2 linked regions of the Homo sapiens genome follow. The protein of the gene in region 1 interacts with the protein of each later gene in a pairwise test. Each region holds a gene or a part of one and is shown in the gene's direction. Other genes may lie near its edges.

Region 1 (3,825 bases):
TAGAAATTGTGAGAACAACTGCCAGCAGGTAACTGACAAAGCATTCAAAGAACAGAGAGACAGACCAGAGGCCCAAGAACAAAGTGAGAAAAAAATATCGAAATTAGATCCTAAGAAGTTAGCTCTAGACACCAGCTTTTTGAAGGTAAGTACAAGGCCTTCAGGAAACCAGACAGACCTGGATGGGAGCTTGAGGAGAGTTAGGAAAAATGATCCTGACATGAAGGAACTCAACCTGAACAACATTGAAAACATCCCCAAAGAAATGTTACTGGACTTTGTCAATGCAATGAAGAAAAACAAGCACATCAAAACATTCAGTTTAGCCAATGTGGGTGCAGATGAGAATGTAGCATTTGCCTTGGCTAACATGTTGCGTGAAAATAGAAGCATCACCACTCTCAACATCGAGTCCAATTTCATCACAGGTAAAGGGATTGTGGCCATCATGAGGTGTCTCCAGTTTAATGAGACGCTAACTGAGCTTCGGTTTCACAATCAGAGGCACATGTTGGGTCACCATGCTGAAATGGAAATAGCCAGGCTTTTGAAGGCAAACAACACTCTCCTGAAGATGGGCTACCATTTTGAGCTTCCGGGTCCCAGAATGGTGGTCACTAATCTGCTCACCAGGAATCAGGATAAACAAAGGCAGAAACGACAGGAAGAGCAAAAACAGCAGCAACTCAAGGAACAGAAGAAGCTGATAGCCATGTTAGAGAATGGGTTGGGGCTGCCCCCTGGGATGTGGGAGCTGTTGGGAGGACCCAAGCCAGATTCCAGAATGCAGGAATTCTTCCAGCCACCGCCACCTCGGCCTCCCAACCCCCAAAATGTCCCCTTTAGTCAACGCAGTGAAATGATGAAAAAGCCATCGCAGGCCCCGAAGTACAGGACAGACCCTGACTCCTTCCGGGTGGTGAAGCTGAAGAGAATCCAGCGCAAATCTCGGATGCCGGAAGCCAGAGAACCACCCGAGAAAACCAACCTCAAAGATGTCATCAAAACGCTCAAGCCAGTGCCGAGAAACAGGCCACCCCCATTGGTGGAAATCACTCCCAGAGATCAGCTGCTAAACGACATTCGTCACAGCAGTGTCGCCTATCTTAAACCTGTAAGTAGAAGGAGGGAGAAATGGTGACTGAGCACCCTCCATAGTAAATGCATCCCAACTTTATTCCCTCTCTGTTTTAACATAAGGGGATACTCACTAATTGAGACCAACTGGGGGAAGCCAATGAGCATTACCAATAGAACTAAATTACTGCTATCCCTAAGGATGTACACCTGTAGCACCCCATCTCTAGGTACGCCTATATGACTTCTGTAACAACGATATTAGCAGCTAACATTTAGGGAGCATTTACTATAGGCTGGAGTTGTTATATGAATTAACTCATGTAATCATCTTACTAACCCTATAAGCTAGGTACTGTTATTCTCCCCATTTAATAAAAAGGATACTGAGGCTTAGAGAATTTAATAACATGTGGAGGAGACACAGCTAGGAAGTGGTAGAGCTGACATTGAAACCCGGTTCTGAGTCTAGAGTCAAGCTTTAATTCACCTCTTCTTCTGACCTCTTCAAGTGCATATTCAAAAGAACACCATTCCAGCCACAATGGAGCTGACACTCAGAGATCCCTAGGAACCTACAGTGAGGAATAAATAAGAATGAGGCCAGGCCGGGCGCATTGGCTCACGCCTGTAATCCCAGCACTTTGGGAGGCCAAAGCAGGTGGATCACAAGGTCAAGAGATCAAGATCATTCTGGCCAACATGGTGAAACCCCATCTCTACTAAAAATACAAAAATTATCTGGGCATGGTGGCGGGCACCTGTAGTCCCAGCTACTCAGGAGGCTGAGGCAGGAGAGTCACTTGAACTTGGGAGGCGGATGGTGCAGTGAGCGGAGATTGCACCACTGTACTCCAGCCTGGTGACAGAGCGAGACTCCATCTAAAAAAAAAAAAAAAAAACCACCCAAATTGGGCCAGTTGTTTGTAGATAATGGAATGCTTCCAAAATGCATAGAAACAGTTCTTTTTAGTAGATGAAGAGAGACTGTTCGAAATTGCATTTGTATTGCTCACTTTTTAGGCAGATAAATGTTGAACTTCAGGTTGGTGTCACCATGAATTCACGGAGTTTTAAAATCACTATTTCAATTTAACATTTACCATGATCCACGATTACTGCCGAGTGGAAAAGTTATTTTCCGTGCAACTTAAGTTGCAGAAATGAAGATATTTTGGTCATTATTATGATGGCGTTTATTGAGGTTGAAAGATGTGTTCAGAGGCCGCAGGTGATTGATAATTAACTATATTATTTTAAAATCTCCTGTAATATAGCCACGAGATTATGTTGGCAGAATAGTCTGTATATTATTTTGTTACACAGATTCATGTTTTTTCAAAACATGTTGAATTTTTATGCATGCTTGCTCTTTTTCTGCTTTAAAGAGCTTGATATTCTGAAATAATTGCTAGTCTTTCACATATGTATCGTCCTTATTCCCAACTCCTAGAATGGAGAATTATCAATAGCCCATTCTTCTAAATCAAAGCTGACTTTCATCTATGATTTAGAGAGGCTCTGATTCTTCCTGGAGCAGTGGCCAGGGTGAGAACGCTGGAGGTCACATGAGGTCAGACAATGGTTCTTTGCCTGCCCTTGGGCACAACATCAAGACTTTCTGCACCTGCTCTTCTCTGGACAGCCAGAACTCCCCTAGGAATGAATTGGGGTATTGTTTGAGAGAAACTAGTTCTACCACTTTTCCAGTAACTAGTCATTGGCAAAGAATATTCAAGCCACCTTGGTGGCTGTACATTCAGAAAAGAGCAGTCTGAAAAGAATGATGAGACGTCTTTTGAAAAAATCTGTGCCAAAGGTGGCATGTAAGTTCGGAGTAGAAGAGGGAATGAAGTTCAGAAGAGCATCTGAACCAACTCCCTGACTTCTGAGTGCTCTGCTGAGCAAATCCATTTTTCCTGGGTCAATTCCATTCTATCCATTCACTTATTTGTTAATCTAACAAATATATATGTCAGGCAGATGAGAAGGATTGGGGATATAGTGGTAAGTCAGGTTCAGTCTCGACCGCACACAGAGCTTACAGTGTAGGTTTAATTTTTCACCCCTCTGCCTTTTACTCAACTGAGAACACTACAGTTTTGGGTCTAGAGTCTAGGACAAAAGACATTAAAATAAATTCATGATGATAATTGCAAGAATAAAACACCCCACCAAGCACTGCATTTTTCATATTTTAATCAATTCAAAACTACTACCAATTTTAAGTGTATTTGGTGGTGGTGTTTTAAAAAAAATAATTCAAGAAAAACATGCCGCAAAGTGAACTCTGACATGCTTTTTGAATGACAATCTTGCATATCACCCTCGGTTTTGAAAGGGCTTCATTTATTCTGAAGGATTGGCAATTTCTCCTGCCTTCAGTTGCCTGGCTTGGCCTGTGACAGATCTGTTTGCATGTGTCTCAGTTACAAAATGTCACACAACTTCATCTATTCGGTCCTGGAAAACACTCGGCAAGAAAAATATGAAAATGCCTCCTTGCACTAATGAAAATTTGCTTCACTAATATCAGATTGCTTCCCAGCACTCTGTTTCTGTGCCTTTCTGCATGTACTATAAATTTCTGCTTTAAAGCCAAAACATAGTATAATCTTTTAAAAGATATTTTAATTTTTTTGTTTTGTTTTGAGGTCATTTTAGACTTACAGAAGGTCAAAAGTAGTACAAAGAATTCTTGCATACCCGTCTCACTTTACCACATTTGCTTACTTATCTTTCTTTAAA
Region 2 (2,579 bases), about 26 Mb from region 1:
GGTGCCTGGGACTTGGATTGCAAAGGGTTGCAGTTGGAGCTGTGGGTGCTGGGTGGCAGGGACAGTCACTGGGCTTGCCGAGGCATCCCAATGATGCACCTTCTCACACACCCCCAGGTGGGCACCCTTCGAGGCCTTCCCACAGGAGCGTAGCTCACTCAGCCTGGTCAGCCTGGTGGGTACCCTCTATGCCATTGGTGGCTTTGCCACACTGGAGACGGAGTCTGGAGAGCTGGTTCCCACAGAGCTCAATGACATCTGGAGGTGAGTCCCACCCTGGGGAGGCAAGGGGGCATCATGAGCAAGGCTGACACCCCATAGCACCATGGTGGGGTACCAAGGCACTGGGCAAGCTCCTCTGGGGGCAAAGCGGATCCCTCTTCTAGGGAGTCCTGTAGGGAGGAATAGCCAACATACCCTGCTTGGCCGTTTCTCACCAGTTTGTTGGGAAAGTCTGGGCTTGCACAGATGACACCATGCCCCACTGTGGAGCAGCAACAGTGTTGCAGATGGGAGCAGACCCAAGCTTAGGTCATAGACTCACAGAAACAGGGCCCAAATAGCAGCCGGATTTTCTTCTCTCCTGCCTTCCGGGTGCTTGGTCTGGAGGGAGGGCTGCCACTAGGGCTGGGAAACAGTTGGAGCCCTGGCCTTTCAGAACCATTGCTCTCTATGGCTGGTCCTTTGTGGGGGTGGGAGAAGGAAACTTTAGCCTCTGGGGCATCTCCTTCCTGAACCTGCAGCCATCTGCACTGCTGCAGGCAGCCCCTGGGGAGCAGTGCTGCCGGAGGCTGAGACGTGAGACTTAGTAGAAATGGAGCATGGAAATTCTCAAGGAGAGGACATTGATGGGGTGGTGTGGGCAGTGTAGACCTTCCTGGAGGGGAACTTTGAGGAATATGGGAACACCCCTTGAGAGGTGATCTTTCCTGGGGAGAAAGACCCTTCCTGGAGTGTGGGGTGGGTGTTCCTTGGGGTGGGTCTTGTGGGGGGTCTCCTTTCCCAGAGCCTGGGGATTTTCAGGAGCAGATCTCCCTAGAGATGGGCCAAGTGCCCTCAGCCACCCCTCTCTGCTGCGTTCCACTCTGGACTCAGCTGACCAAGCTCTCCATCCTTGTCCCCACTCTCTCTCATCCCCAGGTATAACGAGGAGGAGAAGAAATGGGAGGGTGTCCTGCGGGAGATCGCCTATGCAGCAGGTGCCACCTTCCTACCAGTGCGGCTCAATGTGCTGTGCCTGACTAAGATGTGACCAGCTCAGGCAGACTGAACTAAGCACCCCTCCCATCCTGCGACCCTCACTGGCCTGGCCTTGTGGGGGCTCCAGAAAAGAGGCTAGGAGAGGCCAGAGTCTACCTGGATCCAGTTATGGTGCCTCAGGGGCTGCGTCAGCCAAGGAAAGGGAAGTGCTGCTTAGTCCTGGACTTTTGGGCAAGGGTGAGAAACTAGAGGCTTCTCCAGTGTTGCCATATCCCCCTAGGTTGTCTTGATCCATGAACCAGAACCACAGGGCGGTATCCCAGGCCGTGTGCTGGCCCTGCCCCAGCCTAGCTGAGTGTGCTGGCAAAGTTCCCCACAGGACTCAGCCTTCTCGTCTGTCCGATGGGAGCATCCCCATCAAGTGCAGTGTACAGTGCAGATATGTCTCCTTCTTTAGGAAGAATAAAGTGCCTTCTGAGCAAGCAGCTCAGGGTCTGCATCAGTGCTCCAAGAGTCAGTGAGCAGGTGTGTTGAAGACTTGGGGCTTCAGTGTTCTGCTGTTGGGCTGCCAAGGTCGATGGTCTCTGCTCTCCATCTGGTGTCCCCTCCACCCTATGGGTGGGAACCCTCCCCTGCCTGAGGCCTAGAGCCTCCAGCTCCTCAGCCACTATGGACGTGGAGCCAGGGGACTGTGGGAAGAAGGGTCAGGGAACAGCCAAGCTGTTGTAGAAAAGTCTTTTATTCTATCGGTCAGGCCCCATCTGGCCCAAGAATAGCTGAGCAGAGCCCATCCCTCTACCCGCTCCCTCCTACTCCGGCTTCTCTTTGTCCTGCTTCTGCTCCTCCTCCAGTGCCAAGGTTCGCTCACGCTCCTTTACCAGCTGGACGCCACAGTAGGTGACAAACAGGATGGACAGCGTGGTCTGGGGGAACCCTGTGTGGGGAGGGAGTCATAGATGCTCAGGAGCAGCACTGCATCCTCAGCGACTTTTGTCTTCCCACCCCTCTCCCCGCTTGATGGGCCCTCCCTTCTGAGTCCCAGGGGTGATGAGGGAGATAGGAGGCATTTTGGAAGGTCACGGTCCTTGAGGCTGATGCCTGGCACCTTCTGTATCCCCACACCCCTGTCCCTCACCTGTGAGTAGCAGGCGCCGGGCAACCAGCTCTGTGAATTTGAGGCTGTTCAGGCTCACAAGGTTGTACATGATGATGGCCCAGAAGTTCATGGCTCCAAACAGGGCCCGGACCCTACGGGACATCTGCACTGACAGAGAGGCCTATCCGGTCCAGGAAAGCATGGGCAGCGGGACAAGAGGCCAAAGGAAAGAGGACATGGTGGGTCAGCAGCCTTACCCACCTGGCCAGTCAGGTCTTGGGGC

The links.
Region 2: the proteins of LMOD3 (region 1) and KLHL40 interact in a two-hybrid assay, tested with the Homo sapiens proteins (one large-scale study listed by BioGRID).

Annotation. Positions count from the first base shown.
Region 1 is NC_000003.12:69,115,988-69,119,812, reverse strand, and holds part of LMOD3 (leiomodin-3), read left to right. Parts: coding exon 1-1,114; intron 1,115-3,825. UniProt on the Homo sapiens protein: Essential for the organization of sarcomeric actin thin filaments in skeletal muscle. Increases the rate of actin polymerization.
Region 2 is NC_000003.12:42,690,742-42,693,320, forward strand, and holds the end of KLHL40 (kelch-like protein 40), read left to right. Parts: intron 1-117; coding exon 118-264; intron 265-1,140; coding exon 1,141-1,252; 3' UTR 1,253-1,803; downstream 1,804-2,579. Other genes in the region: HHATL (protein-cysteine N-palmitoyltransferase HHAT-like protein), read right to left, coding at 2,010-2,134, 2,336-2,477. UniProt on the Homo sapiens protein: Substrate-specific adapter of a BCR (BTB-CUL3-RBX1) E3 ubiquitin ligase complex that acts as a key regulator of skeletal muscle development.